Homo sapiens: one gene and its partners. The protein of the gene in region 4 interacts with the protein of the main gene of each other region in a pairwise test. Each region holds a gene or a part of one and is shown on either strand. Other genes may lie near its edges.

Region 1 (4,367 bases), on a different chromosome or scaffold from region 4:
GAACCTGTGCTAGGAAAATGACTTCCCAAAAGAAAAGAAACGGTTCATGGCACCACCGTAGAAAACAAGAGGTTATTGGAAGCAACCTACAGACCTGATGGAGAGGAGGGGAGGGTCAGTAACCTGACTCTGTCTCCTTGATGGATCTAGGAGCCACCAAAATGGTGAGCTGACTGCAGCGCATCGTGGGAAGCCAGAGAACAATCCACTGCTGTGGACTGAAAGTTTGTGTCTCTCCCAGATTCATTTGCTGAGGTCTTCACCCCCAGTCCCATGGTGTTAGGAGGTGGGGCCTTTGGAGGTGATGAATCATGAGCGATGGCTTTACGGTGGAATTAGTGCCCCTATAAAAGAAACCTCAGGGAGCTCCCTTGCCCCTTCCACCCTGTGAGGACACAGCCAGAAGACCTGAAACAAAAAGCAGGCCCTCAGTAGACACGGAGTCTGCAACACTATGATCTTGGACTTCCCAGTCTCCAGAATCGAAAGAAATACATTTCTGATGTTTGTAAGCCACCAGCTTGGTCTATGGTATTAATATTTTTGTTATAACAGCTCGAACAGACTAAGGCATTCACTCTTAAGAAGGAAAAGGTAATATCAAGATGTATATACACTGATTATAATATCCAAAAAATGTGGTTTTTGTTGGTACAATCATGGAAAACATGAACTTGATTTGTTGGGGTTCTGGGCTTCGGGTACAGGTGCTTTGTATTATTTAGGTCATGGGCTGTCAAACTTGAGTCCTTGGATCTTTCTAGAGCCCCAGCTAGAGCAGGCCTAGGCCAAGGGGTGTGATGGTGGGACTTGGCTCTGTGCTCGCCTCCTTCCCATGCCTCCCACCCCGAGCGCTTTGAGTTGCTGTTGAACCACCTCACCCGCATAGAGTTTGCTCATCTTGCTCTGGCGCTGCTTGTGACCGGAAGGCAAACAGTGGCTTTCTGGGCATCTTCCCTGTCTGTGTCTGTGTCTCTCTGTACTCCTGGCCTGGATTTGAAAGTGACAAGCAGCAGCAGATCTGAAGACCCTCATGCCTTGTCCCCTCCATCCTGACAAGTGACAAAGTCTGGCTTTGTGACATGTGTGTTTGTTTCTTCTGTGTTAAAGGGCCTACAAAGGGAGACATGGAAATCCCCTTTGAAGAAGTCCTGGAGAGGGCCAAGGCCGGGGACCCCAAGGCACAGACTGAGGTGAGGACTGCGGTGCCGGCAGGGACTTCGGGACGCGGCCCCCGGCACAACAGGCCTGGCCACGAGCTCCACAGCCCACAGAGAAGTGTCGGTGCCTGAGATCGGGGTCAGGAGCCAGCGTGGTGCACCCTACCCCACTTGAGCCCCATGTTGGTAGGGTGCCCATGTTCACTGTGCCAGTTTTCCTCCTGGCACTCCTCTGGGGAGCAGCGCTCATCCCCCTTTTGTCCAACTCACACCTCATCTTGGGCATCACCTCCTCCAGGATGACCTCCTGGCTTCCTGCAGCTGCCTGCTCAGTGCCACCCCTCAACATACACTGTGTATGCTGCCCACTCTTGTCTCCCTGACTGGCCTTTCACCTGGCTGTTAGCTGTGTGCACGGGGCCCTCAGAGCGGTGACCATTCACTTGGGCATCAGCCAAGGGCTGGGCTTTGTGCCAGTGCTGGGGACATGATGTGGCCCTCTCTTCATGGGTGACAGGTTAGTGGAAGAAGCAGACCCAAAAAACCCAAGTAGACAAGACACAGAAATACAGTGATTTTGAATTCTGGTGAGGGGAGAAGCCAGCAGAACGCTGAGACGGGAGGTGGCAGGGGGTCCTGTGTCCTCTGTGGAGGCAAGTTCTCACCACCTCACTCTGTCCCCTTGCACAGGGCTCAAGCAAGTGACCACAGTTATCCTGAGCAGTTTCCTGCCCCCTCTTCTCCCTAAAGAGGAGAAAAGCTTCCACGCGAAACCATAAATTAAGAATTTCTGGCTGGGAGCGGTGGCTCACGCCTGTAATCCCAGCACTTTGGGAGGCTGAGGCGGGTGGATCACCTGAGGTCAGGAGTTCGTGACCAGCCTGGCCAACATGATGAAACCGTGTCTCCACTACAAATAGAAAAATTAGCCAGACATGGTGGTGCATGCCTGTAATCCCAGCTACTTGGGAGGCTGAGACAGGAAAATCACTTGAACCCAGGAAGTGGAGGTTGCAGTGAGCCGAGATCGCACCACCACGCTCCCAACTGAGCAACAGAGCAAGACTCTGTCTCAAAAAAAAAAAAAAAAAAATTTCTTTCCTGACCTCACAGCCATATTGTACTTTAAAGTTCCTCCCACATCCTTTTGCCCAGGCATTTGGAGGCGGGGGGAGCATAGTAAGCCCTTTTATGGGCTCTCTGTGCCCTGGGCCTCACTTTTTCCATCTGTAGAATGAGAAGACTGGACCATTTCAGCAGGGATTCTTTTTGCAAAGGGCCAGATAGTGAATATTCTGGACTCTGCGCAATCTCTGCCGTGTTGCTCAGCTTTGCTGTGGAGCACGTAAAAGCAGCATGGACAACATGTAAATGAATGGTTATGGTTGTATTTCAATAAAACTTTATTTGCAAAAACAGGCAGTGGGCCAGTGCTAACCCTTGGTTAGCTGGCGTCTCTCCAGCCCTGGCTTTCTATGGTCCCCTGACTGTTTTGAGAGGTGTAAAGGACCCAGTCATGGTTCTGATTTCCATGCATTGATGGTGAGCCTTGGCAGGCAGGAGCAACTCAAGGAAGAGAACCTGTACCAGTACCAGTCGGAGCCCGTGTCTCCCTCGCCGTGTGGATGGGGTGGCCACACCTTCCTCACCGTGTTTTGAGGAGCGAGTGGCCGGAGGCTCAGTAGGGCCTAGCCTAGTGGACATGCCTGGTGTGACCCCATTTCTGCCCCTTCCTTCCTGGCCTGGGTGACAAAGGGAAGTGGGTGAAAGGAGGTGGGCTGGCAGGGAGCATGGGGTGGGAGAGGGTCGGAGAATCTGGAGGCTGACTGGTGTCTGGCTTGCAGGTGGGGAAGCACTACCTGCAGTTGGCCGGCGACACGGATGAAGAACTCAACAGCTGCACCGCTGTGGACTGGCTGGTCCTCGCCGCGAAGCAGGGCCGTCGCGAGGCTGTGAAGCTGCTTCGCCGGTGCTTGGCGGACAGAAGAGGTGGGTCTGTGTGAGGCTTAGAACAGCCTCTGGAGGGTTGAGCAGCTTGTAATGCTGCTTGCTAACTGAACAACTAAAATCTTACCAAACCTAACGCTGGTGATGCTGTTGGGAAATTTCAGTTTCTGTTTTGCTGGTGGCCTTCTCATTTTAGACACTGTTTCTGGACTTAACATGGGATATTTAACAGACCAAGCCATTTTCATTCTCTTTGGCTTGTGTTGGTATCTCCAAGTGGTAACTATACATCCTGCTTCCCTGCTGGGTTCTGATCCAAACTGAGACATCGATCCTGGGTTCAGCTGAGAGGCAGTTTCCCTGAGGCAAAGCTGGAGACTGTAATGTGGCCTGCAGTCAGAGTGGCCCATGCCCCTGAGCTGATGTCCGTCGAGTCTGGGCAGACCAGCTGAGGGGCTGTGGGCCCACACAGACCTGGACAAGCATGTTCACTTTGGGAGGAGGCAGGCTGACCCTTCATAGATAATCTCTTTCAAACAGAGAGGCAGGGGAGGAAAGGGACGCAGCTCAGGCCAGGGGTGGTGAGTTAGGACGTTGTCCTGCGCAAGGGAAGTGGCTGTCCCTGGTGCCGTGGGGCAGTGTGCTTCCTGAAGGTTCCACGCCTCAGGGAAAGATGAAAGTGGGTGTCACAAAGGTGTTTTTTCTAATGATACCTTTTTTTTCAGATTGTAAGAGTATTTTATGCTTATCATAGAAAACTTGGACTATGTAGAAAACATAAAGATACAAATTACTCATAACCTTGAAGCCCAGAAGCAACTCCCCATATTTTGGTGTATTTCCTTCTGTGTTTGTTGTTGTTGTTTTGAGATGGAGTCTCACTCTGTCGCCCAGGCTAGAGTGCAGGGGTGCGATCTCAAGTCACTGTAACCTCCACCTCCCTGGTTCAAGCAATTCTCCTGCCTCAGCCTTTTGAGTAGCTGAGATTACAGGCGTGCATTACCACACCTAGCTAATTTTTGTATTTTTAGCAGAGACAGGGTTTCATCAGGTTGGCCAGGCTGGTCACAAACTCCTGACCTCAGGGGATCCACCCTCCTTGGCCTCCCAAAGTGATGAGAGTACAGGCGTGAGCCACCATGCCCAGCTTGTATCATATTTTAAGAGTTACATTTATTATACAGAGTCTTCTCTTTGAAAATTAAACTGATGATTTTGAAAAACTAACAGTGGCATTGTTAGCCAGAATTTCTCACCAAC
Region 2 (4,367 bases), on a different chromosome or scaffold from region 4:
TATACCTACCTTTACTCCATGTCCAATATCATCTAGAATTGTATAGTCAATAGGTTTTCTAATATAACGAACTGGTCGTTCAAGGTTGGCTGGAGCAATAATCTTATGTGTCCTTGAAGTGTTTTTATTGGTAGTCAAAATACCAATTTCTCTTCTTGCAACTTTCTCTTTATGAATATCAACTGTCTGCAAAATATAATGTAAAAAACAACACAAAAATGTATAGTTCTAATATCCACAAAAATCAAAATATATATGCCTAGAGATTTAATATTGCTACTCATATTCTAAACTATGCTTGCTAAATTTTTATTCTTCTGGACTACTGATTTTCTCCATTTTTAGGTTAAAGCAAGGGCTGGTAAACCATGGCCCACAGGCCAAATCTGGCCCATCATCTGATTTTTACAGCCCACAAGCTAAGAGTGGTGTTTACATTTTTTAATGTTTGGAGAAAAGAACAACCAAAAAAAACCTTCACGTGAAAATTATATAAAATTCAAATTTGCTTTTCCATAAGTAAAGTTTTATTGGAATACAGCCATGCCGCTCACTTGCTTATCTGTCTAGGCTTTACACTGTAATGGCAGAGATGAGCCACAACAGAGATGGTATGGCCCACAAAAACTGAAGTATATATTAGCTGGCTCCTTTACAGAAAAGGTTTGCCAACCCCTGGGTTAAAGCATGCTAATTTTTCCCTCTCCATTAAGATTTAGACTAATATAGTGATTAAGAAAGCCCCCGAAATTAATCTAGTTACATTTCTAATGACCTATTAGTATAATTTCTATTCATGTTTAAACATCTTTTTATTTAAAAAGAAAGAGGGCTGAAATATAATGTTAAAAATAAAGCCAGGCACAGTGGCTCAGGCCCGTAATCCAAGCACTTTGGGAGGCCAAGGTGGGCAGATTGCTTGATCCCAGGAGTTCATGACCAGCCTGGGCAACATGGCGAAACCCCGTCTCTACAAAAAGTAGCTGGGTATGACAGCACATGCCTGTAATCCCAGCTAACTGAGAGGCTGAAATAAGAGAACTGCTTGAGTCCAGGAGGTCAAAGCTGCAGTGAGCCATGAATGCACCACTGCACTCTAGCCTGGGTGACAGAGCAAGACCCTGTGTCAAAAAACAAAAAAGCCATTTTTTGACCCCAAAAGACCAAGTTGCTTGGGCAAAGCTGCTTATATTTTATCATGACAAAATGCCTGTAAAATATTTCATTAATTTATTTATATTTATTAAATGCTCACATAAGACATACGAGTAAGAATGTATTGTAATTACAATCTTCTATTTGCTAACAGAGGGTGAATTTCTCCACATACACAGGTAATTAGTACACTAAAGCAAAATTTTTTAAACTGCAAGCTGCAATTTAGTGGTATGTAAGCAGCAATTATTTCAAATCAAATAGAACAGAAACATCAGACTGCATGTACACATAGTAAGGTAAAATACTGTTTCTTGAAAAGTCTGTTTATTATATATATAAATATATACATGAATTATGTGCTGAATACAACGTAAAAAAAATTTTTTCCTGTGTGTCGCAGTCAAAAGAGTTTGAAAAATCACTTCACTAAAATGGTTCACATCTCTTACCACCAATTCCTGGCTCAAGCAGCAATCAACAGACACATTTTTTGCTAACTCCTCCCCAGTCCCACTTCAATGTCCTACTTCAATTTCCCCTTTCTAAAAGAACCTGGTAGTAACAGTGAAAAGATAATCATCATGACATTATAAAATACTGCTTTAAGAAATCTGAACACTGATCATTTATCCTTCTAAACTGCCTCAAGTATGAGGTAAGCCTGAAACAAATTCAAAGCCTCTTATTTCTCTACAACCAAGAGACCTTAAAAACAACAGGATCTATATGTTCCAGAGCTAACGAATGTATAAATGGAACATCAAATAAAAAACTAACCATGGTAGTAATCTTACAATTTTAAGTATTCAAGAAAAAAACAATCTCAGCCAGGCATGGTGGCTCACGCCTATAATCCCAGCACTTTGGGAGGCCAAGGTGGGCGGATCACAAAGTCCGGAGATCGAGACCATCCTGGCTAACACGGTGAAACCCCGTCTCTACTAAAAATACAAAAATTAGCCGGGCATGGTGGCGGGTGCCTGTAGTCCCAGCTACTTGGGGGGCTGAGGCAGGAGAATGGCGTGAACCCAGGAGGCAGAGCTTGCAATGAGCCGAGATTGTGCCACTGCACTCCAGCCTGGGCAACAGAGCGAGACTCCATCTTAAAAAAAAAAAAGAAAAGAAAAGAAAAAGAAAAAGAAAAAAAATAATCTCTAAACTTTTCTACGCATGTTAGGCTAATTATGAGAATAGCTTTCCTCTTCAACTGCTTGGGAAAACTGTAACAGAAAAGTTAAGCTTGCATATTAGTGATGATATTGGAATTCACTTAATTTTTAACTTTAGAGAAATGGAAATTAATCACATTTGGATTAAATTTTATTTTTATGAGACAGTATCTCACTCTGTCGCCCAGGCTGGAGTGGACTGGCCCGATCATGGCTCACTGCATCCTCGACCTCTCAGGCTGAAATGATTCTCCCGCCTGAGCTTCCTAAGGAGCTGGGACTACAGGCGTGTTCCACCATGCTGGCCTAATTTCTCTACTGTCTGTAGAGTTGGGGTTTTTCCATGTTGCCCAGGCAGGTCTTGAACTCCTAAGCTCAAGTGATCCACCCACCTTGGCCTCCCAAAGTGCTGGGATTACAGGAGTAAGCCAATGTACTGGCCTTGAATAAAGTTTAGTGAGTCATTCTAAATCATTAAAAGTATGGGCTAGAAATACCATTTCATACCATCAAGTATGCTTCAAAAAATAAAATATGACACTTTTTTTATAAAATGGGTCTTCGTCAGATCAATAAAAGGTTCATCAGATAACACAATCCTCAAGACATTGTTTTTATTCTCCTCAGTTTTTAGAAATGTACTTAACTTATTCAGAAATGAAACTATAAGAGTGTAAACCTGAGCAGCCATAACAGAATTACAAGCTTATAGCTTCTATTTCACATCTGCATACTATAAATATACATTTTTTTGCAACAGGTTCTCACTCTGTCACAGAGGCTGGAGTGCAATGGGACAATCATAGCATACTGTAGTCTTGAACTCCTAGGCTCAAGCATCCTCTTACCTCAGCCTCCTGAGTAGCTAGGACTACAGGCATGTACCACCATGCCCAGCTAATTTTATTTTTTGTAGAGATGGGATGTCACTGTGTTGCCCAGGATGGTCTTGAACTCCTGACCTCAAACAATGCTCCTGCCTCAGTCTCCCAAAGTGCTGGGATTATAGGCATGAGCCACTATGCCTGGCACATACTAGAAATATTAATAAATCTCCAGAGAATGAACAGGGAGAAGTAATCTTCCACTTATTATTTACACTAACACACAGTAATATTTTATAACAAGCACATATTTCTTGTTTGAAAAATTGAGACTTTAAAAAAGCATTAAAATATAAATTAGAAATCTGTTCATTTGATCTTATAGAGATGTGACTTGGTCTAGGGATTGGGGACATTTACATATTACCCACATGTTCTCTTCATATACACACAAACACACACTTAGCCCAAACCCATAGACCATAACAGTAAAAAAAAAAAAAAAAAAAGGGAAGACCAATACAGTAAATAGAAAGATAACAATAAGCCTAAAATAAAGGGTCATTGTTATAATAGAGCAAAAAAATTGGCACTAAGCCTCCAGGGAGAGAAGGCAAAATAGAAACATAATGAGTTACGAGGAAATATATCAATTCATCAGGAAAGTGAAATGTTTCCCAGGATTAAATTCTTTAAAAATATATTTGTTGTTGCTTTTTATATCAAATCTCAGTAAAAACTGAAGGCATGTTTTTTAAACAGCATAAGTATACAGAAAGTCAAAATAATTTAGTTTGGCTATATGATGTTTTTAATTGTCTACTTCAAAGAATGCCTACATCTTAGAAACACTAGGGGCAGGGTAACTCAACAGTGGCACTATTGACATTTTGGGCTTGATAATTCTTTGTTGTGGGCAGGGGTGAAGGCTGCTGTCTTGAGGATTGCAGAATATAGAAAAGCATCCAGGTAGATAACTGTAGCACTCCCCCACCATGAGATGTGACAACCAAAAATGTCTAACATTGCCAAATGTCCCCTTGGGGGCAAAACTTCCCTGGTTGAGAACCAAAGATCTATAGAGGAAGGACTAATTAGCTGGTCCCTTACCTCATTCAATCTCAAACTGCAATTGTTTCCAAATTTGGTCACAAAAGTCGACTCAAGATCAACGCCTCTAATTTGCCTAAGTATAGATATTTTAAGTAAATAACTT
Region 3 (3,756 bases), on a different chromosome or scaffold from region 4:
CTGGGAGCAGCTGGGCCAGGGACGCAGGTGTCAATGGCCAAGGAGGTGGAAGGGTGGTGGGCCCTGTGAGAACACAGCTCTAGTCTCTGTGCTGGGCCTGATGACCTGCTTCAGTGCCATGGGCCAAGTCCTGAGGCTTGTGTATGTCATATAAGCTTATGATGTCACTTGACCATGAAGGCTCCAGCAGCTCCAGCAGCTCCCACAGCTCCCATCTGCAGGGCAGGAAGACCACCTGTACTGTGGTTTGGGAAGGCCCTTGCAGAAGCACCCAGCCAGGCCCATGCCCTGGGGCCACTTCCTCATCCCTGGCTACAGAAAACACGGGGCCTGTCCCTGCTGGCAGCTGCCTGGGGGACCCTCCATAATGCCAGATGTTAGCTGGTGGGACAGTTTCTGCCCCTGCTGGAGAAGCACTTAGGAGACTGCTTCCTAAGACTCCAGCTCAGCAAGGTCTAGGTTCTCATGAAGCAAAGCAAGCCTCACACAGCAACAACTGATGGTTTCCATTTTTTTCCTTTAATTTGGATGTACAATGTTTGCAGCAGTTAAAAAATTAAATATACATCTCTCGTCAGTCCTTCCCTTTGCTCTCAGAAGCATTCAGGTCTGGGTGGGGCTCCGGGACTCGCCCATCACAGCCCTGCTGGCTCCAGGGGAGCTCAAGCTCAGCTGACAGTCCCTCTGACCACGGTGCAAAGCAGTGAGACCTGGACAAGGAGGCCCCACTTGGGTCAGAGCCCACCCTCCGTAGGCAGGTCCACGTTGGCCACGATCCTCCAAGGCTGGCAGTTACCACCCAGATTGCAGCGGGAGACTCTGCTCTTAGAAACAACTGAGGGGAAGGCGTTCCTTTGACTGCACCAGAGCGTGACAGGCACATGGGGGAAGAGCGGCCCCTGAACCTTCCAGGTTGCCTTCAGTTGTCATGCGGCATTCTGAGCAGCTCCCTCCTTCCCAGGAGGCCCAGGCCCGGCAAGCGAGTGTCCTCGTCTGAGCCATCCTGAGCTCTCCAAGGTCCCTCAGCAGCTCTCAAGATCTTCCTTCTTCTCACTCCTACACGTGACCCCTCTGGAGGACAGCTCCAAGTCTACCCTGGCCAGCAGCTGTGGTCCCGGGTCCTCCCCGCAGAGGGAGGAAGCGGGGGAGGGACAAAGCCCGATGAGGATGTCTGCTGGGAAGGATGCTCACAGGTAGCAAGAGAAGCCTGACTCCACCCACCAGACACACAGAACTAACCTCACTCCACCCCGCAACGGGAGGAAGTTCCACCTGCCAGGCGGCCACACACCGAGTTATTGCTGTCTACTATCCGTCCCGAGCTCCACGTGGGGCTCATCTCAGCTCCAAGAGGAGGAGCTGTTCATTGGCTCCGAGGGCTCTGAAATGACCCCCTCCATGAAGATGGGGGCGAGGGGTGTCCTTTAGGGCACAGGGCCTTCTCAGATGCTACATTCTGGGTGTCTGGAGGGGGTTCAGCTTCACATTTTCCCCTTGAAAGGACACATGCGCTGGCAGAAATGAGGGTGGACAGTAACAAAGAGCACTTGGCAGCTGGAAACATCACCTACATAGACTCAGCTGGGCCCGCAGCGGAAGGGAGGCACATTTTGGGAAAGAAACACGCTTCAGTGCATTGCCAAACAATTCTACCCTGGTTTCATTAAAATCTTTCCCGATATTACCAGCAGGAAAACAAAAGCAATCTCCCCACAGCCCACCCCCAAAACTTGACAACCAAATTAATCACATTTGCAACAAAATTTGGATAATACGATGGGTGCTTGCCACAGATTTTTAGGAACATGATAAAGTCTTCCTCCCTTCTGCAGAGAGCTGATATGGAGACCATCTTCGCCAGTGGGATCCTAGTGGGCAATGAATGAGCCCTGCCCTGACCACGTCCCACGCCTGGATGTCCGTCACGCGGCTAACTTGACCTGGCGGGTCTAAGGAAAGTCAACTTCCAGGAAGAACCGACACGGGCACTCTTAGAGGCCATGCATCTCCGTCTTGAGAGGTGTGTGTGTAAAATTATAGATGTGTCTATATGCACATGCATGGATACTTTATGTATATGCGTGGGTGAAGTCATTTTTACTAATGAGCTCATATTCATCTCCGGAGCACACAGGCAGGTCTTTGGGGGTGGGGGACACCTACTGCCAGAGCGGGGTGTTCTGAGCCCCTTGCTAAGGACTGGTTTAGATCACGTCGTAAACAAGAGGAAGACAAACTCTATGTTGAGCCCAGCGATATGCATTCCAAGGGAATGGCTCTGTTTTACATTCACAGTGTTATTTCTTACAAATGTAAACATCTAGCCAGGAACAACATCTGGCCTGTGATACTGCTGTCTCAGAGCTGCTGACATAACCTGCGGGGGAGGCGGGAGGCGGGTGGGGAGCAGCCAACAGTTCTGAGAACTTTCCCCTCGTTCCCAAACCTTCTAGCGGGCTTTCCAGGAAAAAGCTAGGATGAGAAACAGGAGCCCCCAACCAATACGGAATGGTGATTTTCTTACGTGTTATAATTCAGTAGCTTCCCTTAAGGGCCTCCTCAAACATCGGACCCCTTTCTACCGCTCCTGCTGCCCCGCCACGAGGACGAGGTGGTCCTGGCTGGGGGAGGCCTCTGTTGGGAGCTGGTGGGAAAAGCCTCATACAGGCCTGGCAGAGGCTGCTCAGAGGAGGGGCTCCCTTTCAGCTCCCCCTCACGTATGTGGGCAGCATACAAGTCCACATCTCAGCTGCTCCCCAGCTGCCACATAGGAGAGGGACAGGTGGAAGCTTGGGGGTCTCAAGGCAGCACCTGCACAGAGTTCCAACATTTCCTCCACTTACCACATTCAATACCCAAAACATCGACGGGCATGACCAAACCAAGCCACATGACAGTCGCCAACCTTGCCTGGCTCGCCTCTAGGGCTGAGGAAGCAGAGCCCCTGCCTCGTCTCACAGCCAGTCGGCAAGCAGAGCTCCCAAATCCAGCTCCTACATCAGCAGCAGCCCGGCCATCCAGAATCCACTTCCATTTTAATGACTTGGCTCCTCTGGGCCTGCAAACAGGAGGCTGGTCCAGGGACCTGGCCTGGGGATAGGAGTGGCGGCTCTGACAGGGCCGTGGGGCAGTCTCCGATGAGCACAGATCTGCACTCTCCTGACTAAAAGGGGTCACCGTGCAAGATGTCAGCTGGAACGGGGGCAGAAGGGATGCTGGGCTCTGTCACTAACAGTGCCAAGACACCAAGCTTTGCTGTTGACCGAGAGAGGCTCAGACAAAACACAGCTCAGTGACACTCTTAGGGCATGCATCCATGGAGCAGCAGGTCCCAACACCTGCCAGCCAGCTCCTAGGCAGACGCCACCCCAGGGCTAGCAAGGAACAGGAGTGGGAGGCCCATGTCTCTGGACACAGTGGAGGCTGCTCACAGCCAGGGAGGGCTGGCCTTCTCAGCTGAGTGACAGGGAGGCTGCTGTCCCTGACTGGTGGGTGGAGAACGACAGTCGTCTGTGCCCGAGGAGGAGGGGCTGCAGGTGAGCGCACCCCTAGGATAATGGGGGCCTGTCCTCAGTCCTGCTGTGGCCACCTGCCCACTAACGCCTCTCTACATCCCAGTCACCTTGTGAATGCATAAACAGGAACATGTACAACGGAAATGTCAGCGGGTGCTCAGGAGGGCTATGCCAGTGGCTACAGGAGAGGGAGCGTGGCCGGGGGCCCTGTCCACCACCCCGGACGCTGTCGCATGCAGCA
Region 4 (5,234 bases):
CTCGGTCCCGAGCGGCCCTGGGCCAGGCGCGCCTGCAGTTCCTCGTTGACGATGAGCATCTGGGAGAATTTCTCTGCAGGCGGGAAACCGGGAGGTAGGGAGTGCGGGCTCAGGGCGAGGGGTCCTGGGGCCAGAGGGCGGGGCGGGGGGGCGCTCCAGCGTCCCCAGAATGGGACGGGAGTCCCTTTGCTCTTTCTGAGCCCCCGTTTCTCTGCCTGGAAAGCAAGGATAAGGACCGCTCCCCGCAGCCGGCGTCCCCACCACTCACCCTTCTCGCTGGGGTCCAAGCCGTTGAGGCTATCGCAGCTGTCCCAGCGGGGCCTGTCCCAGCGGGGCCGAGCCAGAGCTGGAGGTGGGGCCGGGGCTGGGGCTGGTGGTGGAGGAGGAGTGCTGTTCTGAAAGGAAGGAGAGGAGAGTACCTGGGTTAGGGAGAGGACTCAGAGTCCCAGCCTCTCCCCTTTCTGGAGATGCATTTCTGAACCCCCAGTCACCACCTGCTCCAGCACTCTTGACAGCTGATCCCCACGCCCCTTGTTCCCAGGATCTGGTCCCAGCCTCTCCACCCTCAAGATCCCAGCGTCTGCGCTGGCTCACCAGGCTGCGGGCAGGGCTTTGGCTGTGGTGCAGCCGGGGTCCGGGGTAGGGTGTCAGGATGTTGTAGGGCACATATCCCTCCTGCCCCGCTGGGTCCCGAACCTTCCACCACTTACGACTGTCATCCAGGACCTGGGTGTGGTAAAGAACAGAGGGTTCAGAGCCTGTCTGCAGCTAGGGCTGGCTAATTCCTGCCCCTCAGCCTCCCGCTCCTCTAACCTCCAGTACGTCCCGCTGCTTGACCGACAGCTCACTGCTGTTGCGGGCCTGGAAGTCATAATTACACAGGACCCATTTTCCTGCTGTCTCTGACTCCAGCTGAGGCTCAGATTCTGGCTCCAAGTCTCGGTGACTGAGGAGAAGCGGGAGGGTTGGAGATAAGGAGGCAGCCAGCCCCATTGCTCTGGGCTGCAGGGTGCTGGTGTGAGCTGGGGTTAGAGCCAAGCTGGGGGCACAGCAGGGGCCGGGTTAATACTGTTAATAGAAATTTGAAACAAGAATAACAGACTGAATATATTTGCTCCCTCCGTTGCTTGGCATTGTGCTGTAGGCATATGTAGTGGGTACTATCCCACCATCGATTCCATTTTACAGAGGAGAATGAGGCTCAGAGCGAGAAAATGACTTGCCCACATCACACAGCTAGAAACAGCTGTCATTTATTGAGCATCTAATAGGCACTGGGCTTTATATATCATAACTCATAAGCATAATAAAAACACTAGCTAGGCCGGGCGCGGTGGCTCACGCCTGTAATCCCAGCGCTTTGGGAGGCTGAGGCGGGCAGATCATGAGGTCAAGAGATCAAGACCATCCTGGCCAACATGGTGAAACCCTGTCTCTACTAAAAAATACCCAAATTAGCTGGGCGTGGTGGCACGCGCCTGTAGTCCCAGCTATTCTGGAGGCTGAGGCAGGAGAATTGCTTGAACCTGGCAGGCAGAAGTTGCAGTGAGCTGAGATCTCACCACTGCACTCCAGCCTGATGACAGAGTGAGACTGTCTCAAAAAACAATAGCTACCACTTCTGTACCACTTACTGTGTGCTGGGCACTGTTCTGTTACGTATATTAGTTAATTTGATCTTTATGACAACGGTTGGTAGAACCATGAATTTGGACTCCCCTCTCTCCCCCAGTTTCTTCCTCCCCCAGAGACCCTATGATCTCCTCCATTTTCACAGAGGAGGAAGCTGAGGCACAGGGATGTAAAGGTCACAGAGTAAGAGAGTGGCATCGCCAGCCCGGGACCAGGGTAGCCCAGGTCTGAATAATGCTGCCTTAGTTTGCAGGCAGCTGGACTTGAACTTGAACCTGGTCACAGCCTTAAGCCCTTAACTGCTAGTTCCTACAACACCACAGACTTCTCACTGTTCCGGGAACGGATAATCATTATTCCCAGTTTCCCTGCAAAAAAGAACTTGAGGCTCGGAGAAAGTGACTTGAAGCTGTGAACAGGGACCAGGGTTGCGATATCAGGCAGCTGGGGGCAGGGGTGGGATTTCAGCTCTGACCCCCAATAAGAGGGACCTCAGCCTGGATCAGGCCTACCTGTGCAGGGGAGAGGGGGGGTCTTCAGGGCCGCGGCACCCCCTGTGTGGGGCCGGCAGCTCCCAGCACGCTGTCCCTGCTGAGACCCTCTGCTCGGGCCCTCACCCAGACCCCCCTTTGTCTCCTCCAGCCTCACTGCTTTGTTTTCGTCTCCTCCCACGTTGCTTCCCTCCAGTCTGCCCTCTATTTGCTCAAGGACCCTAGAGTTCTAGTCCATCTACCTCCTTCCCTCCCCCAGGACCCAGAGTCTGAGCCCCCACTGCTTGGTAGAACCATGACTTGGAATGTTCTTTCCTCCCCCAGGGACCTAGGAGTCCAGGTCTCAAGCTTCAATCTTATCCTTTTAACCCTCAAACCTTTTAACCCAGTCCGACACCCAGCAGCGACTTAGACAATTGCATTAGAGCCTCTGGAAAACCAAGAGTTTAATCGTCCAGCCTTTACCCCTCTCGGGGGCCCAGAGATACTACCACTTCCTAACTTTCCCAGAAACTTGCCCCCAAGCCCTTGAAGTCCCAAGCCTGCTCCTCTGGGTCTCCAGGATCCCAAGCACCAGACTTGGGCTCTTCTTCAAAACCCAAAGGTCCAATTCCCCAGCCTCTCCCCTCCAATATCCAGGGCTCTGTCCTCCTAGGGAGCCCAGGCATGGTGCTTCCCAGGCCCTGGGAAAACAAACTGGCTTCTTCCAGCCTTTTGGGGATCCAGGGATCCAACCTCTCAGACTTTACCCACTCCCAGCCCCCTTCCTCCCTTAGGCCCAGGAATCCGGGTCTCCATTCCCAACTCCCTTAGCCCCAGAAGTCTGGGTCCCGCCCCCTCCCACCCTGCTCCTCCCTCTCTCCCAGCCCCGGCCCGCCCCATCACCATCTCACCCACCTGAGAAGAGCCAGGAAGACAGAAGGAAAAACACAGAAAAAAAGGGGGCGGAGTCAGCATCGGGAGCCCCCGGGACGCACCCCTCCTTGACCCCCTTGCCCTGCCCTGGGGCGGACACTCACCCATTGACAGCGACCTGGGGGGCGCTTTGCTGTAGGAAGTAAGACAGTCGGGTCAGGCGGGGCCAGGCGGACCGGCCGCGCCCCCGGACTTCCCAGCCTCGGCCCTGCTGTGTCGCTTGGGTCACCTGCCGGCGCCTCCGCTCGTGCTGTAGCTGTTTCTCAACTGGGTCCTCCCAGGCGCGGCTCTGCGGGTCAGTGACCGGCGGCTCCCAGCCGCTGAAGAACTCGGGTCTGTATGGGGGTCCCTCCTCCGGGGACAGCTCCAGCCTGCGGCCAGGGACAGGGCCAAGAGCTCAGGGATCCTGATACAGCCCCCAACTTCGTTCCTGCATTAACTTCACTAAGTTTTCCCCTAAAGCTCGCTGTATTCCAACGATTCTAGCCCCGCCACTTTTCACCAAGTCCTGCCGGTAGCTCTAAGCCCAACTCAACAGCAATTTATATTTCTAGACCGGGCACGGTGGCTCACGCCTGTAATCCCAGCATTTTGGGAGGCCAAGATGGGAGGATCGCTTGAGGCCAGGAGTTCCAGACCAGCCTGGGCAAAATATTGAGACCCCATCCATCTCTCTCTCTGGAAAAAAATTGCCTTATCCAGCCTCTAAATCTCACCTGATTCCAAATCAGGTTTTCCGTAAGGTCGGTTTCAGGTTCTGACCCTTTCCCTGCGGAACTGCCAGCCCGCAGTGCACAGACTCTGTCCCATCACCAAAGTTATAGACCAAACCTTCCAGAAGCCCCGCCCCTTCGCGTAGCCCCGCCCCTGCCCCGTAGCCCCTAGCCCCTCTATTCCTTTAAGCCCCCCTTTTCTTTCAATCCGATTGGTCTGGTGGTCTTAAATCTTTCCTTCACGTTAATTCCTGGCCTTTCCTCCAATTGAATCTTGGCATCTGTCCTAAGCCCCGCCCCAACACAACTAAGCCACGCCTCTAACCCCTCCCTACTCTCCTAGTCCTATTTTCCAATCATCATGCCACCCACCTCCCAGCGCCTTATGCTCCTCCAATCACCATGCCCCCTGCCTCCCAGCCCCGCCCCTCACCCGGGGCGGGTCCACGAGTCCCCCAGCGAGGTCCAGAGCTCGTTTTCACGTGGAGTGACGTTGTCCCGCAGCAGCGCCACGGCATCCGATGTCAGATGCGGCCGCCGCACACTGCTCGCGAACTCCGGCCCCCCCGACGTGTTCACAATCTGTCAGGGGAGCAGGAGGGGCAGGCTGTGCCGCCACACCTTCTACAAGTCGAACCCGATTCCTCCCGCTGCAGGGGGGCCCGAGGGCCTGGGGCGGGTCTCACCATCTGCAGAGGCCCGAAAAGGAAGTGCAACAGCTCCGGAGAGGAGGGGTCGGCGATGTTGCCGCGCAGCCGGGCCTGGGGCGTGGGGAGGGAGGTGGTTGGCGTGGGTGCGGGGACGGGACAGGTTCGTCGTGCCCGCGCCCCGGCCCAGGGGCGGGCGCGTCCTCACCAGCAGGCTGAAGGCGTACTTGATCTTCTGCAGCACGTCGGTGTACTCGGCCTCCGAGGGCGGCTTGGCCCGCAGCGTCAGCAAGCCCTCTGAGGGGAGCAGACGGGCGCGGCGATGGGGACGCGGGGCCAGCACCAGGCAGGCAGAGAGAGGTGGACACCCGGTTAAGATGGCGGTGAGGTCAGCCCTGGCAAGTGGCGGGAGGGGAGAGCCTGGGGAGAGCGGGGACATTTGGAAGAGATCGGGAGGGGGTTCAGATCCCACGCCAGGGTGCCCCTTACCCCCAGCCGCCCGGCGCCGGCTCCTGCGGCCGCGTTCCCGGTGCTCCAGCACCCTGGCCGCCTCCGCCGACTTCTGCAGCCTCGATACAAAGCTCTCTACGTCGTCGAACACGTGGTTCAGGATGTCCTAGGGGACAGAGGAGGGGGACGCTCAGGGCTCCCGAGTTCCAAAACCATCCCCGTCGAAGCCCTGAACCTGAGCACCTATACACTTCCCCAGATCAGGCCACGCCCCAAACACCTGGCCACGCCCCACAACCAAGCCCCGCCCCCGACCCAGCCCCTCTTCCATAACGCAGAAGTCTGACCAGAGAACGCCCGTCCCGCAGCCGGCCCCGCCCTTCCAC

The links. Proteins that work in one complex are often made in the same cells at the same time.
Region 1: the proteins of EPS8L1 (region 4) and WFS1 interact in binary tests that used the Homo sapiens proteins (3 or more experiments, as listed by UniProt).
Region 2: the proteins of EPS8L1 (region 4) and ABI2 interact in binary tests that used the Homo sapiens proteins (3 or more experiments, as listed by UniProt).
Region 3: the proteins of EPS8L1 (region 4) and HTT interact in binary tests that used the Homo sapiens proteins (3 or more experiments, as listed by UniProt).

The regions. Positions count from the first base shown.
Region 1 is NC_000004.12:6,285,983-6,290,349, forward strand, and holds part of WFS1 (wolframin), read left to right. Parts: intron 1-1,110; coding exon 1,111-1,193; intron 1,194-3,004; coding exon 3,005-3,149; intron 3,150-4,367. UniProt on the Homo sapiens protein: Participates in the regulation of cellular Ca(2+) homeostasis, at least partly, by modulating the filling state of the endoplasmic reticulum Ca(2+) store.
Region 2 is NC_000002.12:203,376,027-203,380,393, reverse strand, and holds part of ABI2 (abl interactor 2), read right to left. Parts: coding exon of another isoform or gene 4,262-4,367; intron 187-4,261; coding exon 10-186; intron 1-9. UniProt on the Homo sapiens protein: Regulator of actin cytoskeleton dynamics underlying cell motility and adhesion. Functions as a component of the WAVE complex, which activates actin nucleating machinery Arp2/3 to drive lamellipodia formation.
Region 3 is NC_000004.12:3,240,702-3,244,457, reverse strand, and holds the end of HTT (huntingtin), read right to left. Parts: 3' UTR 501-3,756; downstream 1-500.
Region 4 is NC_000019.10:55,081,553-55,086,786, reverse strand, and holds part of EPS8L1 (epidermal growth factor receptor kinase substrate 8-like protein 1), read right to left. Parts: intron 5,015-5,234; coding exon 4,888-5,014; intron 4,696-4,887; coding exon 4,607-4,695; intron 4,513-4,606; coding exon 4,438-4,512; intron 4,334-4,437; coding exon 4,185-4,333; intron 3,410-4,184; coding exon 3,268-3,409; coding exon of another isoform or gene 3,172-3,267; coding exon 3,143-3,171; intron 3,021-3,142; coding exon of another isoform or gene 3,005-3,020; exon of another isoform or gene 2,545-3,004; intron 1,069-2,544; coding exon of another isoform or gene 1,029-1,068; exon of another isoform or gene 947-1,028; coding exon 814-946; intron 727-813; coding exon 595-726; intron 396-594; coding exon 269-395; intron 74-268; coding exon 1-73. UniProt on the Homo sapiens protein: Stimulates guanine exchange activity of SOS1. May play a role in membrane ruffling and remodeling of the actin cytoskeleton.